Linked DNA regions of Homo sapiens. The protein of the gene in region 6 interacts with the protein of the main gene of each other region in a biochemical or structural test. Each region holds a gene or a part of one and is shown on either strand. Other genes may lie near its edges. The genes, in order: TRIM50, MIIP, KPNA1, SEPTIN7, RPA1, HDAC6 and USP10.

What was found.
Region 1: of the proteins of HDAC6 (region 6) and TRIM50, one has a biochemical effect on the other in vitro, tested with the Homo sapiens proteins (one study listed by BioGRID).
Region 2: the proteins of HDAC6 (region 6) and MIIP form a complex in vitro, tested with the Homo sapiens proteins (one study listed by BioGRID).
Region 3: the proteins of HDAC6 (region 6) and KPNA1 form a complex in vitro, tested with the Homo sapiens proteins (one study listed by BioGRID).
Region 4: the proteins of HDAC6 (region 6) and SEPTIN7 form a complex in vitro, tested with the Homo sapiens proteins (one study listed by BioGRID).
Region 5: of the proteins of HDAC6 (region 6) and RPA1, one has a biochemical effect on the other in vitro, tested with the Homo sapiens proteins (one study listed by BioGRID).
Region 7: the proteins of HDAC6 (region 6) and USP10 form a complex in vitro, tested with the Homo sapiens proteins (one study listed by BioGRID).

Annotation. Positions count from the first base shown.
Region 1 is NC_000007.14:73,318,083-73,321,582, reverse strand, and holds part of TRIM50 (E3 ubiquitin-protein ligase TRIM50), read left to right. Parts: intron 1-1,340; coding exon 1,341-1,436; intron 1,437-2,508; exon of another isoform or gene 2,509-2,530; coding exon 2,531-2,761; intron 2,762-2,873; coding exon 2,874-2,896; intron 2,897-3,500. UniProt on the Homo sapiens protein: E3 ubiquitin-protein ligase that ubiquitinates Beclin-1/BECN1 in a 'Lys-63'-dependent manner enhancing its binding to ULK1. In turn, promotes starvation-induced autophagy activation.
Region 2 is NC_000001.11:12,018,297-12,022,297, reverse strand, and holds the start of MIIP (migration and invasion-inhibitory protein), read right to left. Parts: upstream 2,801-4,001; 5' UTR 2,746-2,800; exon of another isoform or gene 2,324-2,745; intron 654-2,323; 5' UTR 572-653; coding exon 458-571; intron 204-457; coding exon 1-203.
Region 3 is NC_000003.12:122,462,940-122,466,439, reverse strand, and holds part of KPNA1 (importin subunit alpha-5), read left to right. Parts: intron 1-2,398; coding exon 2,399-2,498; intron 2,499-3,500. UniProt on the Homo sapiens protein: Functions in nuclear protein import as an adapter protein for nuclear receptor KPNB1. Binds specifically and directly to substrates containing either a simple or bipartite NLS motif.
Region 4 is NC_000007.14:35,804,057-35,807,556, forward strand, and holds part of SEPTIN7 (septin-7), read left to right. Parts: intron 1-3,500.
Region 5 is NC_000017.11:1,836,505-1,840,004, forward strand, and holds part of RPA1 (replication protein A 70 kDa DNA-binding subunit), read left to right. Parts: intron 1-3,500. UniProt on the Homo sapiens protein: As part of the heterotrimeric replication protein A complex (RPA/RP-A), binds and stabilizes single-stranded DNA intermediates that form during DNA replication or upon DNA stress.
Region 6 is NC_000023.11:48,819,067-48,822,271, reverse strand, and holds part of HDAC6 (protein deacetylase HDAC6), read right to left. Parts: intron 2,167-3,205; coding exon 2,017-2,166; intron 88-2,016; exon of another isoform or gene 9-87; intron 1-8.
Region 7 is NC_000016.10:84,706,500-84,709,999, forward strand, and holds part of USP10 (ubiquitin carboxyl-terminal hydrolase 10), read left to right. Parts: intron 1-3,500. UniProt on the Homo sapiens protein: Hydrolase that can remove conjugated ubiquitin from target proteins such as p53/TP53, RPS2/us5, RPS3/us3, RPS10/eS10, BECN1, SNX3 and CFTR.

The DNA.
Region 1 (3,500 bases), on a different chromosome or scaffold from region 6:
CCGGGCAGTCCAGGAGAAGTGCATTTATGTCAGCTTGGGGAGGTCGCAAATCCGTGCTGTGTCCAAGCCCACCAGGAATGGATTCAGGTGTTTATGGGTGTGGGGATTCACCAGGTTTAACCCAGGCCCGTGTGAGCACCACTGGCCCTAGAATTAGCCTCACCTGGCGCCGGCCTTTTTGTGATGGCTCCTGATTAAATACCCACTAATTCTGGATCTGCTGGTGACCACAGAGTTCACCTGATGGGTCCCCTACAGGCAGCATTCAATCCAGGAAGTGCCAGCATCACATGGTGACTTCTGGTAGCTGTAACGTTTAGTGACTCTCTCCATGTCATGCAGAGGGGTGACATTGAGACCCTCTTATGCCTGGGAAGTTCCTGCTGTCAATGCAGAATATTCTTTAAAAAAAAATTAGAGATGGGATCTCACTGTGTTGCCCAGGCTGGTCTCAAACTCCTATCCTCAAGTGATTCTCCCACCTTGGCCTCCTAAAATGCTGGGATTACAGGCACGAGCCATTGTGCCCAGCCTAGAATATTCCTTTTTTTTTTTTTTGAGACGGAGTTTCACTCTTGTTGCCCAGGCTGGAGTGCAATGGCGCGATCTTGGCTCACTACAACCTCTGCCTCCCAGGTTCAAGCAATTCTCCTGCCTCAGCCTCCCGAGTAGCTGGGATTACAGGCATGCACCACCACGCCTGGCTAATTTTGTATTTTTAGTAGAGACAGGGTTTCTCCATGTTGAGGCTGGTCTCGAATTCCTGACCTCAGGTGATCCACTCGCCTCGGCCTCCCAAAATGCTGGGAGTACAGGCGTGAGCCACTGCGCCCAGCCTAGAATATTCTTGAATTAATTTATCTTATTTTTTATTTTTATTTTTTTGAGACAGAGTCTCACTGTGTCACCCAGGCTGGAGTGCAGTGGCATGATCTTGGCTCACTGCAACCTCCACCTCCCAGATTCAAGCGATTCTCGTGCCTTAGCCTCCCAAGTAGCTGGGACTACAGGTGTATGCCACCACGCCTGGCTAATTTTTGTATTTTTAATAGAAATGGGGTTTCACTATGTTGGCCAGGCTAGTCTCGAACTCCTGACCTCAAGTGAAGTCCCACCTCAGTCTCCCAAAGTGCTGGAATTACAGGCGTGAGCTTCTGCGCCCAGACTATTCTCGAACAATTTAACCTGTTTTGGACTCAAGGGTACCTGGGTGGCTCTGGTTCCCGCCCTGGTTTCCCTGGGAGTGCTTGTGGCCATTGGGATACTCCCAAGAAGGTGATCCAAGGAGCTGAGAAGGGGAGGGATCAGCTGCTCATGGGGCCATGGCCTGTTGCCTCCAGGAGGAGCTCGCAGCCCTCATCTCTGAGCTGAAGCAGGAGCAGAAAAAGGTGGATGAGCTCATCGCCAAACTGGTGAACAACCGGACCCGAATCGTCGTGAGTGCCCCTTCCCTCTGCCCCTGCCTGGGACCGGCCACCTTCACTTTCCTGTAGAACTCAGTTCTCATTGGTCCTTTACAGAAAACCATGCCTTCCATATAAAGCCAGAACTCAAAGCATTCCCAGGGCGGGGTGGGGAAAGCGCAAATCCTCTCAGGGGAATTCAACCCAGTTGTCGTTAGGACTGGCTCCAAGTTGGCTTTTGCCCTCTGTGTCCTTGAGACTGAGATAACCCAGGACTTGAGTCTCAGGGGGTAAACAGCTCAAAGCATGGGCATGACTCCTCCGCCCCTGTGCCACCTGTGTCTGCTTGACCTTGCCAGCCTGTCATGGTGCCCTCCCAGTACCTGGGTGCTCAGGCGTGGAGAGGCTGGCAGCCCTGGGCCCTGGCTGATCTCCCGAAGTGAGAGGCACATGGGGCTGGGAGCCATAGTGCCCCGGCCCTGGAGGTGGCTGTGAAACAGAAACAGGAGCCGGGCAAGATCCAGGAGCACTCAGCCTCCCTCATTTACCCTCCTCACCCTTGCGCGGCAGGCGGTACCAGCCCTGCCTGGTGGAGGCGGAGCTCAGGGTTCTGCAGGGAGTTCTGGCTCCCTCACAGCAAAGCCTGCTCGCCTAGGGCCTTCCTGCTTTCCTTCAGTTGTGGAACTCTGGGATATGCACATTTAATAGCTGAAATAGGCAAAGTGGGGTGTGGTGGCGTGCATCTGTAATCCCAGCAACTCGGGAGGCTGAGGCGGGAGGATTGCTTGAGGCTGGGAGGTCAAGGCTACAGTGAGCTATGATCATGCCACTGTGCTCCAGCCTGGGCAACAGAGTGAGACCCTGTCTCTTAAAAAAAAAAATTAAAACAGGCCAAAACAGAGCCTCTCCATTTGAAACGGGAGCTGGGGTCACCCTCCCCACGGCCACCGCCAGGGCTCCCCATGCATGGGGTGAACTCCCTGCCCGGCGCCAGGCCATGCAGCCTCCCCTGAGACTCAGGTCCCAGGACCAACCCGGTCAGGAAGGCCCTGGGGACACCGAGGCCAGCCAGACAGAGCCTGGCAGCTCGGCTGTGACTCTGCAGTGACCAGCCCTCCCTGTCCCAGAATGAGTCGGATGTCTTCAGCTGGGTGATCCGCCGCGAGTTCCAGGAGCTGCACCACCTGGTGGATGAGGAGAAGGCCCGCTGCCTGGAGGGGATAGGGGGTCACACCCGTGGCCTGGTGGCCTCCCTGGACATGCAGCTGGAGCAGGCCCAGGGAACCCGGGAGCGGCTGGCCCAAGCCGAGTGTGTGCTGGAACAGTTCGGCAATGAGGACCACCACAAGTTCATCCGGGTGAGTGGACAGGGAGGCGTCCCATCCCCATACCCGCCAGGGCCTTCCCCTTCCCAACAGTGCCCTAGCTTCCCACCTTCTAGCCTTAACCTCCCTCTCTCTTGCCTTCCAGAAGTTCCACTCCATGGCCTCCAGGTAATAACCTTGGAGAGAGCTCAGCCAGGGTCTGGTGGCTGCGGGCACGGGCATCTCAGCTCCACTGGTTCCTCCATTCGGTTTAACCAGCGCCTCCCAAGCAGCTGCCCACAGCTGGCTCTATAACTGAGCCTGGGAAAAACAGAGGAAAGTCATGTCCCTGCCTTCAAGGGTCTCGTAGATGGGTGGGGAGGCAGATGGTGAACTGTGGGTACCTAGAACAGCAGAAGTTCACTCAAGCTACAGAAATACTAGAGGAGGGTAGCTCATGCCTGCAATCCCAGTACTTTGGGAAGCCAAGGCAGGAGGATTGCTTGAGGCCAGGAGTTCGAGACCAGCCTGGCCAATGTAGTAAGACCCCATCTCTACAAAAAATACAAAAATAAAAAAATTAGTTGGGCATGGTGTCATGTGCCTATAGTCCCCGCTACTCATGAGGCTGAGGCGGGAGGATTGCTTGAGCCCAGAAGTTTGATGCTGCAGTGAGTCGTGACCATGCTACTGCATGATCCAGCCTGGGTGACGGAGCGAGACCCTGTCTCAGAAAACAAAACAGAATGCTAGAGGAGGAGCAGGTGTCTGGGGGACCTGGCAGAGGGGCACA
Region 2 (4,001 bases), on a different chromosome or scaffold from region 6:
AGGGACTCCTGGTGCTGGCATTTGGCAGGTGGGAGAGAGGCCACCCCCGATCTGGCCACATCACGGAGGTCCCCTCGACAGGCATCTGGTGGGCCCCACACGGAGGACCGGCCCCGTGGGCAGGAGGTGCTCAAGGAAGTTGAGGACGTCTCTGGGGTCGATGGAGTCTCTGAGTTGTAGCTGCTGCTGGATTCCAGGCTTGACTGGAGAGAGGGGCCGGGTCACCCAGGGAGTGGCTGCCAGAACCTACCCACCGGGCCTACGCCAGGCACCAAGGCAAGCATCCTCATCCTGCTCCGGCCTCAGCAGTGACCAAGGCCAGTCTCTTCCCTCCCCAGCCCTCAATGTCCCATCATCAGTAAAATGGGTGTATTGAACAAGATGAGCCCAGAAGCCTGGATGCTGGCCTGAAGGTCAGGTAGCCCCTTCCTCTGGGGTTCCCAAGGCGGGCACGCACCTCCGAGGCTGCCCTGGCCACTGACCGCCGCACAGCATCCTGCCCCACCCACAGCTGCCTCAGGAGCTCCAGATTGAGCAGCCGCAGCTGTGCCAGTTCCTCAGCCTCCACCATCCTGGGCCTCTCTCAGCAGGTGTCACTTGCCCCTGGGCCGCAGGATGTCCTCAGGGCTGGGTTCCAGGCCCAGCTCTTCTACCTGAAGTCAAGACAGCAGGACACGGGGCTCAGTAGGGTGCCCTGTGGTGCCAGAGACCCCCATTCGACACTCTTTAACTGTACTGCCTCAGGCAAGTTATTTAACTTCTCTGTGCCTCAGTTTCCTCATCTGCTGGACGACAACAGTATCTACCTCATACGATTGTTGTTAGAATTAAAGAAAGCATGTTAAGCCTGGACAACATTTGTAGAAACATTTTTTTTTGTTTTGTTTTTTTGTTTTTTTTTTTTGAGATGGAGTCTTGCTCTGTCGCCCAGGCTGGAGTGCAGTGGCGCAATCTCGGCTCACTGCAAGCTCCGCCTCCCGGGTTCACGCCATTCTCCTGCCTCAGCCTCCTGAGTAGCTGGGACTACAGGCGCCTGCCACCACGCCCAGCTAATTTTTTGTATTTTTAGTAGAGACGGGGTTTCACCGTGTTAGCCAGGATGGTCTCGATCTCATGACCTTGTGATCCGCCTGCCTCGGTCTCCCAAAGTGCTGGGATTACAGGCATGAGCTACAGTGCCTGGCCAAAAAAAAATTTAATTAGCTGGCCATGGTGGCACTTGTCTGTGGCCCCAGCTACTCAGGAGGATAGCTTTAGCCCAGGAGACCCAGGCTGCAGTGAGCCATGGTTGCATCACTGTAAAAAAAACAAAAAACAGGCCAAGTGGCTCACGTCTGTAATCCCAGCACTTTGGGAGGCTGAGGCAGGAGGATCACCTGAGGTCAGGAGTTTGAGATGAGCCTAGCCAACGTGGCGAGAGACCTCGTCGCTACTAAAAATGCAAAAATTAGCCGGGCGTGGTGGCACGCGCCTGTAATCCCAGCTACTCGGGAGGCTGAGGCAGGAGAATCACCTGAACCCGGGAGGCAGAGGTTGCGGTGAGCCGAGATCGCACCATTGCGCTCCAGCCTGGGCGACAGGGTGAGACTCCGTCTCAAAAACAGCAACAACAACAAACAATTAGCCGGGTGTGGTGGTGGGCGCCAGTAATCCCAGCTACTCAGGAGGCTGCTGAGGCAGGAGAATCGCTTGAACCTGGGAGGCGGAGGTTGTAGTGAGTGGAGATCACACTACTGCACTCCAGCCTGGGTGACAGAGCAAGACTGTCACACACACACACAAAATACAAAAAACAAAGCACTCAGTACAGTGCTTACTTAATACAGTGCTTACAGTGGTATACAGTAAGCATTCAATAAACGTCTATTATTACCAAAATGGCTGGGGCAAGGGCATGCTTCCTTTTTTTCTTGGCTCACTGCAACCTCCGCCTCCTGGGCAGTGGTTTGGACAAGCTTGCTTTATAACTGGTGAGTCCAACACAAATCAGGCTTCAAAAGGGATTCTTCCTCCTTTCCTGCCCTCCCTTCCTCCTTCACTTTCTTTTTACATATGAAGAAACCAAAGCTCAGGGAAGTTAAGCAACTTGCCCCAAGTCACACAGCTAGCAAGAGGCTAGATCTGAACCAAAATTTGACTCCAGGGTCCATGAGTTCAGGGTTCTTGGAAAGCCTTTCCCTGGAAGTGTGGGGGAGCCTGGGAAAACTCCGCCTCCTCCTCCCAGCCCTTGCCCCCCACCTCCAAGGATCCTCAGGATCGGGTGCAAGGTCTGGAGCACAGAGTAGCCGACTACCCCGGAACCTCCCCCACACACGTATATTACCCCGCAGGGCCGGGGGGCACGGAGATGCAGTCCAGAGGGGCCAACTGTTTGATCCGCAGGACAAAGATCCCGGCCCCCACCCCTAACTGGCCAAGTGGCTCTGGGCCACACCCCTATAGTCAGAGGGTCGCCGTTTTCGCACGGGGTCAAAGGGCACAGCAGGCCTTGCCCTCCCCTGGCCCCGGCCGCGCTTTGGAAAGGGAAAAGCTGAGCGGAGACACCGGGAAAGCGACGCTCCAGAAACACCGGGGCCGCAGAAGTAACAGAGGGCGAGCGGGCGGACGCCGAGGCGGGACCCCCGCAGAGGCAGATGCAGCCTACCCTTCTTTTCCACTGCGGCCCCCGAGCCCCTCGCGGGAATGCACGTGGGGCCTCCTGCCGAGCCCTTCCGCCCCACCCCAGTCCTGCCGCCCAGCACTCACCCGGCAGAATCCCCTAGCATGCGCCGCCGTAGCAGCCGCAGCCGCCTGAGCCGTTCCAGGGGCCTCGGCCGGCCGTCTTGATTGGTCAGGTGAGGGGCAGGGCCGGGACGTCTGGTGAGCGTTACTCGGCGATCCGAAGTGTCAGTTTCAGCGTGGGGGCGGGACTAAGAGCGGAGCTACACAACCGATTGGTCAATTTTCGAGGCCGGTGCGGAGGTCGATTCCTGGAATGGGGCGGGCCCCGGAAGGGCGAGCTCCGATTGGTCAGCTGCGGGACTGGATACGCTGAGTTCAGCAGCGGCAGTTTCAGTCAGGCTGGGCGGCCTAGGCTCGGCGCAGGCGGCAGTCCGGAGCGGCGGGGTAGGTGGGGCAGGCGGCTGGCTACTCATTGTACTCATCGTTTCATACTTTTCTTTTTTTTTTTTTTTTTGGAGACGGAGTCTCACTCTGTTGCCCAGGCTGGAGTGCAGTGGCGCGATCTCGGCTCACCACAATCTCTGCCTCCCGAGTTCAAGCGATTGATTCTCCTGCCTCAGCCTCCCGAGTAGCTGGGACTACAGGCGAGCGCCACCATGCCCGGCTTTTTTTTTTTTTTTTTTTTTTTTTTTTTTTTTTTTTGTATTTTTAGTAGAGACAGGGTTTCACTATGTTGGCCAGGCTGGTCTCGAACTCCTGACCTCGTGATCCGCCCGCCCCGGCCTCCCAAAATGCTGGGATTACAGGCATGAGCCACTGCGCCCGGCCTGCTTTATACTTTCATTCAGGTTTTTAGCGAGTGCCCGCTTTGCGCCAGAAGATAAGGACTACACAGTAAACAAGAAAGTGTAGTATTGGGGCCGGCCGCGGTTGCTCACGCCAGTAAACCTAAAAATACAAAAATTAGCCGGGCGAGGTGGCCGGCGCCTGTAATCCCAGCTACTAGGGAGGCTGAGGCAGGAGAATCGCTTGAACCCAGCTACTAGGGAGGCAGAGATTGCAGTGAACCGAGATCGCGCCACTGCACTCCAGCCTGGATGACAGAGCAAGACGCAAGACTCCATCTCAAAAAAGAAAAAAAAAAAAAAGATACCCAGCCTGGGCAACATGGCAAAACCCCGTCTCTACAAAAAATGAGCCAGGCACGTACCTGTAGTCCAGCTACTCGGGAGGCTGAGATGGGAGGATCACCTGAGTCCAAGAGGCTGAGGCTGTGGTGAGCTTTGATTGCACCACTGCACTCCACCCTGACTGAGAGACCCTGTCTCAATAAATAAATT
Region 3 (3,500 bases), on a different chromosome or scaffold from region 6:
AATTATCTCCTAAAAGGTACTGTTGTTTGTAGTAACAAAAAAAGTACAATTAAAAAAAATGAAGAAAAATCTTTCTTCCGCTTAGCCACCTAGTATTTTTCTCCATTGGCAACTAGTATTACTAAATTCCTATTTATTCTTTCTGAGAACTTTTGTATATTAAAATGTTCTCCTCTCCCCCACCTTTTTTTTTGGTAAATGGTGGCATACTATTCATAGTATTTTGTAGTTTTTATTTTTATTTCATTTCATAGATCTCCAGTTTACATGAACCAGCTTTCTTTGAGAGTTGGGAGGGTAGTATTATTTCCTTTGGAATTCATACAGACATAGCCAATGCCATCATTTTGTGATGAAAGTTTCTAGGCCCTTCAGAAAGCCAGTCTTTCCAATTTTTTTAAGAAGAGAGTGTTAAGTGAATATAAAGTGTTTTATGGATTGTATTAGGGTTCTCCAGAGAAACAGAACCAATGAGAGAAAGAAATTTAGTTTAAGAAAGTGGCTCGTGTCTTTGGGAGCTGGCAAGTGTGAAATCTGTAGGGCACACTGGCCCACTATAAATTCAGGTTAAGAGTTGATGTTGTTGAATCCCTTTTCTTCAGAAAACCTAGTCTTTGCTTTTAAGGGTTTCAACTGATTGGATGAGGCCAACTTGGACTACAGGCGTGCGCCACTACCCCCAGCTAATTTTTTTGTAGTTTTAGTAGAGACAGGGTTTCACCATATTGGCCAGGTTGGTCTTGAACTCCTGACCTCGTGATCCACCCGCCTTGGCTTCCCAAAGTGTTGGGATTACAGGCGTGAGCCACCGCACCCAGCCAGATTACAACTTTCCTTTGTGCAACTAAAAATGTATGGATGGTTCTTGACTTAGGAGGGTTCAAGTCAGGATTTTTCAACTTTACAGTGGTGTGAAAGCAATATGCAATCAGTAGGAACTGTATTTTGAATACCCATACAGTCACTCTGTTTCTCATTTTCAGTACAGTATTAAGTAAATTACACGAGATAGTCAACCACTTTATTATAAAATAGGCTTTGTGTTAGATCATTTGTTCAGCTGTAGGCTAATGTATGTGTTCTGAGCATGTTTAAGGTAGGCTAGGCTAGGCAATGAAGTTTGGTAGGTTAGGTGTATTAAGTGTACTTTTTACTTAATATTTTCAACTTATGATGGGATTAGTGGGGCATAACCCCATTCATTGTAAGTTGAGGCACATCTTTACTAACTCCTTCTGCGGAAGAGGATGCAAAATCTTTGGGTGATGTTCACTCCTGTCCTTGATAGCCTGTGACTTAAATATTATAATGTAAAGTTAACAATACTTAAATAGTGTAATGTAAAGTCAGTACAGCTTGCTATAAGAGGATGAGAGAGGGAAGAAAAAGATATTTGCTTAATGTGTGTATATATATATATGAATGTGTTTATGCAAACATATTCATAACAAATCATATAGAAACCTTGATTTAGGAATCAGTCTTGCAATTTTGAAAATAGTTACTTTTCTGATTCTTGAGTAGAATGCGTCATATATTCCCCTATGAGGATTCTTAGGTATTGCTTACCAGTCATCTAGCATTTACAGCTTAGTGCAGCTTTCTTCACAATTCATCTTGTTGACTGCTACCCTTCATGAAATAAGAACTTTGTTTCTTTCTGACAAATGACCCTGAGAAGAAAATTAACTGCTAATACTGGGGATGAGTTATGGTGGGAAATGGAAACATTCTAATAAAGCAAGAAGGTAGTGGGAAACTGGAAAGTTTTAATAAAACAAGAAAGAAATTTTAAATAAGTTTAAGAGTCAGCTGTTGAATTTGGCAGTGGCTGGATTTATACAGGACCACTCTATTTACTCACTCAATAAGTATTGCAGAGCATTTACAGTACACCAGCCCTTAGTGATAGAGTAAGACAGACAGGGTCTTGGGCTTACAAGGAAGTTACAGTATACTGGAGGAACACAGAAAAATATCTGGGAGTGTAATAAGGGCTGGGGCATACGATTGAAATATGGTGCTGTGATAGAGATAAAGTGGCTACTTTAGGCTTGGAGGTCTTGAAAAGCCATCTTTTAAAACTTAACATTTAATTTTGATAAGAAAGAATAGCCAGCTATGTGATGAGCAAGGAGGGGAAGAGCAATAAGCTCCTTGTCTTATTTACTAGTAAGATCACTTTCTACTGTGAGCTTTTTAATGATAGACAAAGAATTTGGCTTCATTATATTATTAATAATCTTACACGTTTCTATATGTAAAGATTGTCCTACCTTTATGTAACTTCTGGGGAAGTATGATTAACTTAATAACTTGGCCATGATATCTGTTATCTTTCTTTCCTTTGAATTAAGGGTGATAATTTATTATATGTTCTTTTTGTTTGTGATCGCAGGGTGGTGTCATCACTTCTGACATGATTGAAATGATATTTTCCAAAAGCCCAGAGCAACAGCTTTCAGCAACACAGAAATTCAGGAAGCTGCTTTCAAAAGGTGAGCTATGAATATGTTCAGTATATTTTTTCATCTCTCTACAAAATTACTTTCCCATAGTCTGTTTTTCATACCACAGGTAATTTGTGTTGGAGTATTTTTATCAATAAAAGAATAAAAATACAGACATATATGTAATTGTGAACCATGCCTAAATTTTAAGTTTCCTATTTATTTGTGGGATCTCACCAGGATCAGAAAACAGAATTATTTTCATTTTTGGGTTATTTTATAAAAGACTTTATAGTGAATAGTAGTCAGTATCATGTTAATTCAAATTGAGAGACTGACTTTTTTTTATAGAGTGACTTTAAAAATACTCCTTGAAAGAGTTATGATTGTTGATTTTAATGTTAGCAATTTACCACTGAAAGTTAGGAATGCATTTACTGGTGGGCAGGGTGATTACCTTTTTTTTTTTTTTTAAAGACGGCTCTGTTGCCAGTCTGGAGTGCAGGCTGGGCGCGATCTTGGCTCACTGCAACCTCCGACTCCCTGGTTCAAGCGATTTTCCTGCCTCAGTCTCCCGAGTAGCTGGGATTACAGTTACACGCCACCACCCCCAGCTAATTTTTGTATTTTTTTTTTTTTTTTGAGATGGAGTCTCACTCTGTCGCCCAGGCTGGAGTACAGTGGCGCTATCTCGGCTCACTGCAAGCGCCGCCTCCCGGGTTCACGCCATTCTCCTGCCTCAGCCTCCCAAGTAGTTGGGACTACAGGCGCTCGCCACCGTGCCCAGCTAATTTTTTGTATTTTTAGTAGAGACGGTGTTTCACTGTGTTAGCCAGGATCTCGATCTCCTGACCTTGTGATCCTCCTGCCTCGGCCTCCCAAAGTGCTGGGATTACAGGCGTGAGCCACTGCGCCCGGCCTTTTTTGTATTTTTAGTAGAGATAGGATTTCACCATGTTGGCCAGGATGATCTCGATATCCTATCATGATCCGTCTGCCTCTGCCTCCCAAAATACTGGGATTACAGGCATGAGCCACCGCACCCGGCTG
Region 4 (3,500 bases), on a different chromosome or scaffold from region 6:
TCGAACCTTATGTTAGGGGTTGGAGGTCTTGGTGTGAGGAAGGAAGACTTTAAAATTAAAGACTGTTAAGTCCGTGTGGCTTTTTCTTACTTTGGATTCATTTATCCTGTACTCCATGTAGCTCGCATGGTTAGAGAGATCTGAGGCCTACTCCTATTTGAGAGGATGTTATCCCCCATAGCCAGAAACCAGGGTGGCTTCCAAAAGAAAAGGGTAGCATTCGGTGACTCTGCTTTAGGCCTTGAGGATGAATCTTTTCTTTGTTTTTGTCTTCCTGTGTCCTTTTGCATCATCAGAGATCTGGAGACTAAGCTTTGAGCATGGGCTTGGGGAAGAGGGGCCAAAGAGGCAGCTTGGCTGGCATTAAGTGTTGAAGGCCGTAGACCAGACACACACTAAATCCTTGTGACTTACACTTGGTGCAGTCCAGCTATCCAGATGTAGGGATTACACATTGGGGTTTGAGTTCAAAATCTTAATAATGATTTAGAACATGGGCTTTGATGTTAGATATGGATGCAAATCTTGGCTTTGCTACTCAATAGATACACCAGTCAGAGTAGGTTAGATTGTAATTTTAAAAACTACAGTTAGGCGTTGTTAACAATACGGTACATTGAGAAATCATAGAGTATTTTACCTACACAAACCTAGATGGTAGAGCCTACTATACACCTGGGCTATATCCTATTGCTTCTAGGCTATGAGCTTGTATAGCTTGTTATTGTACTGACTACTGTAAACAATTATGACAAATGGTAAGCGTGTTTCTTTTTTTGTTTTTTTTTTTTTTTTTTGAGACGTAATTTCGCTCTTGCTGCCCATGCTGGAGTGCAATGGTGCAATCTTGGCTCACCGCAACCTCTGTCTGCCTCCTGGGTTCAAGCAGTTCTCCTGTCTCAGCCTCGCGAGTAGCTGGGATTACAGGTGCTTGCCTGCCTCAGCCTCCCAAGTAGCTGGGGTTACAGGCACTCGCCACCACGCCCAGCTAATTTTTGTATTTTTAGTAGAGACGGGGTTTCACCATGTTGGCCAGGCTGGTCTGGAACTCCTGACCTCAAGTGATCCTCCTGCCTCGGCCTCCCAAAGTGCTGGGATTATAGATGTGAGCCATCACGCCCGGCCAAGTGTTTGTGCTTCTAAGCATAGAAAAGATGATGTGCTGTACTATGAACTTGTGACTGCTATGACATCACAGGTGATATGAATTTTTTTAGCTCCATAGTAATCTTATGGGACTACTGTCATAAATGTCCATTGTTGACCAAACGTTGGACATACTGCATGACTATACTGCAAATAAAAAAAGTGGAAATGGAATAAGAAAGATAAACTATAAGCCCCAATTTTTTATTATTAGTTTCAATAGACATAAAATTATTCTGCTATTAAATTTTCCATTTTTGTGCTCTCAATTTGTGTTTCTCTGACATAAACTGATAATTCACAGACTGGCTCATTGGTCCACAGACCACACTTTGCATAGCACTAGGTTAAACTATGCTGCAGCAACAGACTGTCATGCTAAAGTTTATGTACAGTATTATGTTTTAGGCCAGTGTTAACTTTAAAAATACTATACTTTGAAAGCTGAGAATTAAGTATCCCCTGTGATTGGGGGGATAGCCTGAAGCTGCTCCTGCTTACGTTATTTTGAAGTTTTCTAAGTCTTAAGTATTCATGTGTCATTTGCATTTTATTCAATGTTTGTTTGCTTTATGTGAAATATAAAGATGATATTCTTCCTCCTTCCCCACTGATCTGGAAGTAAAAATGGACTTTCCTGAAGTTGTAACATCTTAATTCTGTTGTTTTGTTTAACTCTGGGACACAACTGACTACTTCTGGTAGCTTTATTGGAGGTGAGGCTCCAGGTCAGAGTTTCTCATTTGAGGTTTTGTAATTATTTGAGGGAGGGGAGGGCTGTCTTGAGCATTGTACAGTATTTACCAGCATCCCTGCTGTCATCGTGCTAAGATGCCAGCAGCACATGCTCTCTCTGGTTGTGAAATGAAAAAAATGTCTACAGACATTGCCAAATGTCACGTGGGGGAGCAGAATCATCCTTGGTTGAGAACCACTGCACTAGGTGATGGAGAGCCATTGAAGGATTGTGGGAGACGGGGAAGAAGGAACAAGCTTCCTTAACTGTCTTACTTTTTACTTCTTCCTGGAACTCCTACCACTTAATATTCTTAGTATTTCCTAAACTTGGGAATCAAAATTACCTAGATTTTTTTGTATTAAAAGTTTATCATTAATTGATATATTTTTGCAAAGCATGATCAGTAATTACTGGACATAGAACATTATGCTAGGTCATTATTTTCTAAAGTATGGTTGAAGGGTCAACCATGGCTTGGAGTTAAAAATGCAGATTAACTGGTTCCCACTACAAGACCCATTGATTAGCAATCTCTGGGAGAGGGACCCAGGAGTCTACATTTCCAAATGCTTTCCGACTTATCAAGTAACTTCATTATTGTATGCTTTCATAGAAAAAAATACGTGGATTTTAAGTATTTAGTTCAATGAATTGCTGATGTGCATACACACATCTTGTAGCCTTTATTCTAATCAAGATAGAGAATACTTCCACCATCCCAGAGTTTCTTGTGCCCTGTTGGAGTTCTCCTTCTACTGCCCCAGGTAACCACTGATAAGATTTCTAATAGCCATGAATTAGTTTTTTTGTTTTTGTTAGTTGACTCATTTAAAGTGTTTTTTCTGGGTAACTTTCTAAAGTCTCCCCATCCCTATAACTTCTTTATTATATAAGATTTCAAATAAAATGAACGTCATGGTGTTTTTCAAAGAATACAGATTCTCATAGTGTTTCACACTTTGATAAATGATAGGCCTGGGATGGGGCCCTGAAAATCTTTGGCTCTGATTGACTGTTTTCAGGAAAATCAAAACTATTTTCCACCAGTTTTGCTGTGCTTTATAAAATATATTTGAAATATTCCTGCAGTGGTAATTTGAAACTTTTGTAAACTTTGTTCATTGATTTAACAAGTATTTGACTCCAGGAAGTATCAGACACTTTGACACCATAGCAATCAAGAAAGCTGTGGTCATGGATGTTATGATGTTTCTGTTTTCATTTCTGAAATTGCTTTTTTAAAACTTTTTTTTTTTTTTTGAAACGGAGTTTCGCTCTTGTTGCCCAGGCTGGAGTGCAATGGCACAGTCTCAGCCACCGCAGCCTCCGCCTCCCCGGTTCAAGTGATTCTCCTGCCTCAGCCTCCCGAGTAGCTGGGATTACAGGCATGTGCCACCATGCCCGGCTGAATTTTTTTTTTTTTTTTTTTTTTTTTTTTTAGATGGAGTCTCTCTGTGTCGCCCAGGCTGGAGTGCAGTGGCGCGATCTCGGCTCGCTGTAAGAAGGTCTGCCTCCCGGGTTCACACCATTCTCCTGCCTCAGCCTCCTGAATAGCTGGGACTACAGGCGCCCGCCACCGCGCCCGGCTAATTTTTGTATTTTTAGTAGAGACGGG
Region 5 (3,500 bases), on a different chromosome or scaffold from region 6:
CATCAACGCACAACTCCTCTTGCTCCTTCCCCACCTCCATCCTCACCCTAGGCAACCAGTGTTCTGGTTTCTACCTTTGTAGGTTAGTTTTGCCTTTCCTAAGACTTCATATAAATGGAATCAAATAATATCTATCCTTTTGTGTCTGGCTTCTTTCAGCAGTTTTTTTTTTTTCCCCAGAGGTAGGGTCTCTGTCACCCAGGCTGGAGTGCAGCGACACAGTCATGGCTCACTCCAGCCTTGACCTCCTGAACTCAAGAGATCCTCGCACCTCAGCCTCCTGAGTAGCTGGGACTACAAGTGCATGCCACCACTCTTGGCTAATTAAAAAAAAATTTTTTTTTTTTTTTTTGAGACACAGTCTTGCTCTGTTGCCAGACTGGAGTGCAGTGGCGCAATCTCAGCTCACTGCAACCTCTGCCTCCTGGGTTGAAGCGATTCTCTTCCCTCAGCCTCCCGAGTAGCTGGGATTACAGCCGCATGCCACCATCCCCAGCTAATTTTTGTATTTTTAGTAGAGACGGGGCTTCACCACGGTGGTCAGGATGGTCTCGATCTCTTGACCTCGTGATCCACCCGCCTCAGCCTCCCAAAGTGCTGGGATTACAGGTGTGAGCCACCACGCCCGGCCTAAAAATATTTTTTGTAGCGATGGAGTCTTGGTGTGTTGTCCAGGATGATCTTGAACTCCTGGGCTCAAGTGATCCTCCCACCTTGGCCTCCCAAAGTGTTGGGGTTACAGGCACAAGCCACCACTGTGGACCAAAATGGTTTTTGAGATTTACCCATGTTAATTCAGTAATCTGCACCTTTTTATGGCTCAGTAGTATTCCATTGTATGACTATAACAAAATTTGTTTATTTACTTATTATTGCACATTTGGGTTATTTTCATCTTTTGGCTATTATAAATGAAGATGCTATGACCATTTAAGTACAACTCTTTTTGTGGAAATATGTTTTCGTTTCTCTGGGATAAATATCTAGGAATGTAATTGCTGGGTCACAGGTAACTGAATGTGTAAAAGAAATCGCCAACCTTTTCCAGTGTGATCATGAGAATTCTAGTTGCTCCATATCCTTGCCAGTCATCAGTCTTTGATTTCGAGTATTCTAGTGAATGTGTAATGGTATCTCACTGTGCTTTTATTTGTATTTCTCTGGTGGCTAGTGACGTTGAGCATCTTTTCGTGGGCTTACTGGCCATTTGTATATCTTCACGAAAGAAGTGTCTGTTCACATCTTTTGTTCACCTAAAAATTGGGTTTTGTGCTTATTAATGAGTTGTGAGAATTCTTGATTCTTGCTAGGTCTTTTGTTAAATATAAATATTACATATATTTTTTCCCAATCTGTGACTTGCCTTTTCTTTTTTGAAATTTTGTTTTTTTTGAAGTGCACTTTTAAATTTTCATGAAGTCCAAGTTATCAGGTTGTGTTTTTTTGTTTGTTTTTGTTTTGTTTTTTGCAGAGTTGTGTTTGTGTGTCCTAAGAAATCTTTGCTAGGCTGGATGTGGTGGCTCATGCCTGTAATCCCAGCACTTTGGGAGGCTGAGGCGGGCGGATCACCTGAGGTCGAGAGTTCGAGACCAACCTGGCCAACATGGAGAAATCCCGTCTCTACTAAAAATACAAAATTAGCTGGGCGTGGTGGCAGGCACCTGTAGTCCCAGCTACTCGGGAGGCTGAGGCGGGAGAATGGCGTGAACCCGGGAGGCGGAGCTTGTAGTGAGCCAAGATCGCACCACTGCACTCCAGCCTGGGCAACAGAGCAAAACTCCGTCTCAAAAAAATAATTAAATAAATAAAATAAAAACAGCAGGGTGCAGTGGCTAACGCCTGTAATCCCAGCACTTTGGGAGGCAAAGCCGGGCAGAACACCTGAGGTCAGGAGTTCGAGACCAGCCTGACCAACATGGAGAAATCCCGTCTCTACTAAAAATACAAAATTAGCCGGGCGTGGTGGCGCATGCCTGTAACCTCAGCTACTCAGGAGGCTGAGTCAGGAGAATTACTTGAACCCAGGAGGTGGAGGTTGTGGTGAGCCAAGATCGCACCATTGCACTTCAGCCTGGGCAACAAGAGTGAAACTCAGTCTCAAAAAAAAAAAAAAAAAAGAAATCTTTGCCTACCCGACCCAAGGTCACAAATCTTTTATGCTGTGTTTTCTTCCAGAAGTTTTATAGTTTTCGCTTTGCCTTGTGGTCTGTAATGCATTTCAAGTTTACTATTTTATCTATGATATATAGCTCTTTTTTAAATACAGATATTCAGTTGTTCCAGCCCTGTTTATTGAAAACACTATCCCATTTCATTGAGTTACTTAGTCACTTTATTTATTTATTTTTTTAATTTTTTATTTTTGAGATGGAGCCTCGCTCTGTCACCCAGGCTGGAGTGCAGTGGCACGATCTCGGCTCACTGCAAGCTCCACCTCCCGGATTCACAGCATTCTCCTGCCTCAGCCTCCCGAGTAGCTGGGACTACAGGCACCCGCCACCATGCCCGGCTAATTTTTTTTTGTATTTTTAGTAGAGACGGTATTTCACCGTGTTAGCCGGGATGGTCCCAATCTCCTGACCTCGTCGTGATCCACCTGCCTCGGCCTCCCAAAGTGCTGGGATTACAGGCGTGAGCCACTGCGCCCGGCCCCTTAGTCACTTTATATAAAATCAATGGACTGTATATGTGTATCTGTTTCTGGAATGTCAATTGATTTCTATGTTGGTGCTTATGTCAATACCACATCATCATAAACATTGAAGATTTATAGTAAATCTTGAAATCTGGCATTGTAAATTCTCCAGCTTCATTTTTATTTTTTATTTTTTATTTTTTTTGAGATGGAGTCTAGCTCTGTCGCCAGGCTGGAGTGCAGTGGTGAGATCTCGGCTCACTGCAACCTCCACCTCTCGGGTTCAAGCGATTCTCCTACCTCAGCCTCCTGAATAGCTGGGATTACAGGTGCCCGCCACCACACCCAGCCAATTTTTATATTTTTAGTAGAGACGGGGTTTCACTATGCTGGCTGGGCTAGTCTTGATCTCCCAACCTCATGTGATCCACCTGCCTTGGGCTCCCAAAATGCTGGGAGTACAGGCGTGAGCCACCGTGCCTGGCCTCTAGCTTCATTTTTTTTTTTTTTTGAGACAGGATCTCACTTAGTCATCCAAGCTGGAGTGCAGTGACATACATGATCATAGTTTACTGCAGCTTTATCTCCCTGGCTCAAGTGATCCTCCCTCCTCACCCTCTGAGTAGCTGGGACGACTGCGCCCAGCTAGTTTTTTTTTTTTTTTTTTTTTTTTTGAGACAGGGCTTTACTATCACTCAGGTAGAGTACAGTGGTGCCATCTCACCTTACTGCAGCCTCTGCTTCCCAGATGCAAACAATCCTCCTGCCTCAGCCTCTCGAGTAGCTGGGACTATAGGCATGTGCCACCACACCCAACTACTTTTTGTATTTTTTGTAGAGACGGGGTTTCACCATGTTGGCCAGG
Region 6 (3,205 bases):
GAACTTGCCTTCATGCCATACAGAAATCCGTCTTCACACTGTCCAGGAACCCCTGGCCTCACATCATACAGTAACCACTGACCTGACCTGCACAAGACGACTGCTGTGAACCCATACAAAAGCCCCTGCCCTGACCTAGTACAGGAACAACTGGACTCTTTCTCCACATGGACTCCTGTATTGACTTTTTTTACACTCTACAGGAATCCCAGTTGCTATTCTTTTTACAGATAAAGAAACTGAGGCTCAGAGTGGTTAGATGACTTGTCCGAGGTCATAACAGCTGAAGAGGCAGCACTGGGGTTTGAACTTGGGCTCTCTGATGGAGTCATCTGTGTTCTTAACTCCCACCGTGTCCTGTCACAAGCAGTACTGGGCACATAGTAAGTGCGACTTTTTGCAAGCCAATTAATTTCTCAGTGACTTATTTTCCTCATCTGTAAAGTGGTGAAAATAACAGCACAGGCTGGGCGCGGTGGCTCACCCCTATAATCCCAGCACTTTGGGAGGCCGAGGCGGGAAGGTTACCTGAGGTCAGGAGTTTGAGGCCAGCCTGGCCAACATGGTGAAACCCCCGTCTCTACTAAAAATACAAAAATTAGCCAGGCGTGGTGGCATGCGCCTGTAGTCCCAGCTACTCGGGAGGCTGAGGCATGAGAATTGCTTGCTCGAGCCTGGGAGATAGAGGCTGCAGTGAGCCGAGATAGCGCCATTGCACTCCAGCCTGGGTGACACGGCGAGACTCTGTCTCAAAAGGAAAAAAAAAAAAAAAAAAAAAAAGAGGCAGGTATGGTAGCTCATGCCTGTAATCCCAACACTTTGGGAGGCTGAGGCAGGTGGATCACGAGGTCAGGAGTTCAACACCAGCCTGGCCAACATGGTGAAACCCCGTCTCTACTAAAAATACAAAAAAATTAGCTGGGTGTGGTGGCAGGCACCTGTAATCCTAGCTACTCAGGAGGCTGAGGCAGAGAACTGCTTGAACCCAGTGAGCCACAATCGCACCACTGCACTCTAGCCTGGGCGACAGAGCAAGACAACGTCTCAAAAAAAAAAAGAAAAAGAAAAAGAAAATAAGAGCACAGAAGGTTGCTGAGTGGGTTAATATCTGAACAACGCATAACAGTAACCAGGGGCCAGGTGCGGTGGCTCATGCCTGTAATTCCAGCACTCTGGGAGGCTAAGGTGGGTGGATTTCTTGAGGCCAGGAGCTCAAGACCAGCCTGACCAACATGGTGAAACCCCATCTCTACTAAAAATACAAAAATTAGCTGGGCGTGGTGGCGGGTGCCTGTAATCCCAGCGACTCAGGAGGCTGAGGTGGGAGGATCACTTGAAGCCGGGAGGTGGAGGCTGCAGTGAGCTGAGATCATGCCACTGCAGACTAGCCTGGGTGACAGAGCGAGACTCTTGTCTCACAAACAACAACAACAACAACAACAACAAAAAACCAGATCCAAAAGATCCAGCATTTACCATATGCCAGGCATTCCTCCATGATTAGCCTGCCTCATAAAGATGAGGAAACTGAGGCACAGGGCGTGGGGATACTGAGTCATTTACAAAGGTCAGTGAATTTCCTTTGTCCCAGGAACTTGTTAGAGGCAGTTCAGGTAGAGTAAAAAGCACAAACCCTGGAGCCAGGCTGCATGGGTTCAAGTCCTGGTTCTGCCATCAGTAAATGTGCCATCTCAGGCTAGTCATCACACCTCTTTGTGCCTCAGTTTCCCTGATCTTCAGAGAGGAAAATGAGGTAAGCTTACCCTACCTCATAAGGCTGCTTTGCCAAGTAACTGAATGAATAAGACACATGAGGTGCTCAGAAGAGTGCTCTGCACATAGTGAGCACTCAATTAAGGCTGTTAATGTTGCTGTTATTCTTATTACTACCCAGTATGTGCCAACAATCCCAGGCAGGGACACTCAAAGGAGATTTCAGGAAACTGTCCTGAGTGATGGTGCCAACATTTCCAAACTACCCTCCCACTGTGGGAAGAGGGACCAAGAGAAAGTTACCTCTAGGATAAGGATAATGCGGCCACTGGCAAGGCCCATCAGCAGGTGGGTGAGGTGGGCATAACCCTCAGGTGACACCTGGCAGCCCCCCAGCGGATCCCCCCGTGCAGCATCAAAGCCAGCTGAGACCAGCACCAGTTCTGGGTTAAACTGAGGCAGGGAGAGAAGAGATGTATAAGCATGAGGGTAGGGGCTTTTGGTAGGCAGTAAGTGATGGCGACCCAGAGACATGGAGAAAAGGACAAATGAAGACATGGAGATGCAAGTCAGAGAGATGGAGACACAGAACCTGGAGACTAGGAGACACAAAAGCAGAGACTGAAAATGAAGAAGGGAAGAAAAGAAATACAGACTCAGAGGTAGAAGAAATAGATGCAGACTTAGAGACATGGAGATGGCAGAAAGGGACAGATGGGGGCCGGGCATGGTGGCTCAGGCCTGTAATCCCAGCACTTTGGGAGGCCGAGGCGGGCAGATCATGAGGTCAGATTGAGACCATCCTGGCTAACACAGTGAAACCCTGTCTCTACTAAAAATACAAAAAATTAGCCAGACGTGGTGGCGGGAGCCTGTAGTCCCAGCTACGCAGGAGGCTGAGGCAGGAGAATGGCATGAACCCAGGAGGCGGAGCTGGCAGTGAGCCGAGATTGCACCACTGCACTCTAGCCTGGGTGACAGAGCAAGACTCCATTTCAAAAAAAAAAAAAAAGGGACAGATGGGGACATGAGACAGACTGACACGTCAAGAGAGTGACATGAAAAACAGAGAGACAGAGACATGTCCTCACACACACATACCCCAGGGTCAAACGTGGGACACACATACACAAGATACAGGGTTTTATATACATAGTGCCAAAGAGAGGTGCTTGCACACTTCCAAAACAGAAGATGGCAACGCAAGAACCACATACAGAGAAGATGGTCACACAGAGCCACACGTACTGCCACACAGACAGTACCATATAGATCAGTACTATATATCTGCACTAGTCATGTACACACACACAGTTTCTCAAAGAGGACAATAACCCACAGCCATCCTGCACAGTCACATACACATGCCATCACCACACAGCCACAATGGCGACATGCACTCTGGTATGTCCACAAGAGCTGGTTATTTGCACATACAGTTGTACACACACAGAAGGCTGTCCTGGCTACCCATGCACAGTCAGATGCACAT
Region 7 (3,500 bases), on a different chromosome or scaffold from region 6:
GTATTTATATTTATTTATATTTTTATATTTATATATATTTTTATATATATATATTTTTTGAGACGAAGTCTTCCTCTGTCACCCAGGCTGGAGTGCAGTGGCGCAATCTCGGCTCACTGCAAGCTCCGCCTCCCGGGTTCACGCCATTCTCCTGCCTCAGCCTCCGGAGTAGCTGGGAATACAGGTGTGCGCCACCACGCCCAGCTAATTTTTTGTATTTTTAGTAGAGACGGGGTTTCACGGTGTTAGCCAGGATGGTCTCCATCTCCTGACCTCGGGATCTGCCCACCTCGGCCTCCCAGAGTGCTGGGATTACAGGCGTGAGCCACCGCGCCGGGCCAAGACTATATATATATTTATTCAAGACCTGAAGTAGGCTTTCTGGGTAGATCTGATCATTGGAGAAGGAGAAACATATTTATTACGAGATACTAAGCATTGTAGTAGTCATCATTTGAAGCCTATAAACTCTATAAACTGCATAGTTTAGAAAGTGCCTTAGCTTGTTTGAGCCTTTACAGCAACTCTGTCCTGTATTATTATAACCATTTTACAGATGAGTAAGATAAGACCCAGAGAGGTTGTGGCTTGAGGTCAAATGGCTGCTGGCCATCAGGACCTTTTAAAAGCAGGTGTTTTGACTTCTAAATCCTTTGCTTTTTCTACTTTGCCAGACTGGTTTTCTGGAAGAGACTGATGAAGGCATAATCTTTCACACTGTGACTTCCCCTTAGTAGTTCCTCCATAAACATTTACAGAATGAATGAATGAAATGTGCATTTAGAAACTTTAATGTTACTAATTACAAAATTTGTTACTATAATATGTTACTATTCACTAAAGTTTGTGTGGGGTACATTTTAATAAAGTCGTTTATTTTATTTTCTAGTATAAAGACATGCTATTTTTAAGACACGAAAACAGCACAGACGTATTTAAAGTGAAAAGTAGAAGTCATTCCCTTCCTCTCTGATCCTTAATCGTCAGTTTGGTGTGTGTCTTCTATGCTTTTTTCCACTGGAGTATTTTGTTGTTGTTGTTCCGTTGTTTCATAATATGGTCTGTTGTATCTAGTCACTGAACTTTATTGAGCAAACCTTGTTTTCAAAATTATTGAAAACATCCACTGAAGTCAGTTTTCTTAGGTTTACCTAATTTTGCCAGGGAATGAAGCAGATATTCTGGAGATTGAAGTGACTTATCAGGATCCAGTGTGCAGGGGATTGTGGAAGTGCTGCCACAACTTATAACATGTTGTCCAAACAATTTTTTTTTTTCTTAAGAAATATTTTGGGCCAGGTGCAGTGAGTGACTCACGCCTGTAATCCCAGCACTTTGGGAGGCTGAGGCAGGCGAATCACTCAAGCTCAGGAGTTTGGGACCAGCCTGGGCAACGTAGCAAAACTCTTTCTCTACAAAAATACAAAAATTCACTGGGCATGGTGGTGCTCTCCTGTAGTCCCACCTACTTGGGAGGTTGAGGTGGGAGGATCGCTTGAACCTGGGAGGTGGACATTGTAGTGAGTCGAGATTGTGCCACTGCACTTCAGCTTGGGTGACAGAGCGAGACTCTTACGTCAAAAAAGAAAAGATAAGAAATATTTTGAAGACTTCCACCCCCTTAGTAGTAGTCATGCTGTCCGGTGTTCATAGTGTAAAAAGAGGTCTGGCTGGGCGTGGTGGCTCACGCGTGTAATCCCAGCACTTTGGGAGGTCGAGGTGGGTGGATCACCTGAGGTCAGGAGTTTGAGACCATCCTGGCCAACATGGTAAAACCTCATCTCTGCTAAAAATACAAAAATTAGCCGAGTGTGGTGGCGGGCACCTTTAATCCCAGCTGCTCCGAAGGCTGAGGCAGGAGAATAGCTTGAACCCGTGGGGGCAGAGGTTGCTGTGAGACAAGATCACGCCACTTCACTCCAGCCTGGACGAAAGAGTGAAACTCCATCTCAAAAAACAAAAAAGGAGGTCTGATTCACATTCAGATTCTTGTCCATCCATTGCCTTTGCACTAGATTTATGAGAGGACAAACTTTTTATTAGTTGGAGATTGGTAAGTCACCTGCCCTAGGGAATAATGAGAAACTGGGTAATTCACCTGAATTTTTCTCCATCTTCTTCAAAATCATGTTTTTGTCTTCTGTCACTTTGTTTCATCAGAGTACTGCAATGGCAAAAAACAAAACACTTCCCAACTCAGGTCCCACTCCTGAGAGATAACCACATTTAAGTACTTCTGACTTGTAATAGAATGCAAAATCGGGGCTTCCAAGTGTGGTTTACTATTTTGTTTAGAATTAATTTGTAGAATACTAGACACTTTTTTCAGAACCACATATGAAGGACTTTATATCTTTTGTGATTGTTCACAGATTTTGGTGGCCGGACGTTAGGAGTATAGAGCTGAAGAGAGAATTCCTGTGCTTTAGAGGTTCGCTGGGTAGTGAGGGAGAGAAGCAGGCTAATGGCTGGGTGCATCCAGTTTTAGGGTGGTAATTCCTGTAACACAAGTGTGAACAACATAGTCAAGAACATTCATTCATTCGTTTGTTCATTCATTCAGCAAATAGTTACCGAGTGGCTGCTGTGTACCAGGCACTGAGGAGGGAGTGATGAGCGAAAACAGGCATTGTTTCTCTCGCGGAGGAGTTTATGGGTCCATTGAGGAAGACAGCTTGCTAATCAGATAATCACAGTTACGTACACGTCACTCCAAACTGAGAGATGTTTCCCAAAGGAAGGGAACACAATCTGAAGTCAGAGAACCGTTCCCGTGGAAGTGACGTGTTTACAGCATGAGACAGTGGGGACAGCATGTGTGGTGGACCTTTGGCTGGAGGGAATTTGGAGCACTTTGGAGAACTCAGCAAGGAGTTGTGTGTCTTGGGCACAGAGCTGGAGGGGAGGGACAGACGCACCATCCAACCTTGCAGCCTTTGTTAGATGTTACTGTCTTTATTCTGAGAAAAGTGTGGAAGAGGGGGTGGTACAACATTTGACCATGGAACCTCATAATCACATTGCCTTTTGGGATCATACTCTGCCCAGTGAAGAATAGACTCACGGGGTCGCAGTGGCCATAAGGAGATCATTTAGGGCAGGGTCCTTGGACTTTTGACTCGGAGGGTGCCGTGGAGGTGGAGAGAAGTTGCGTGACTCAGGAGTTAGGTATAAGGTGTTTCAAAAAAGGAGGAGAGTGGGACTGAATGTTGGGCAAAGCTGGGAAGACGTCTCTTGTAGAACGGTGACATTTGAGCTGGAGTTTTTCAGGCAGAGAAGCACACGGACAAGGGCATGTGGAGGAGACTGTGCAGAGGAACTGTCTCAAAGCCTGCAGCCTGTTTGGGAAACAGATAAATTTGTGGCTGAAATGGTGTGTAGGGTGAAGTGGTTAGCCGGGAGTCTGGAGAGGAGAGAGAAAGAATTTGGTAATCCAAGCTCAGGACTGAGTGAAGTTGGTAGCAACTCTGTGTTAAGATAGCTGGTTGAGGCCGGGTGCG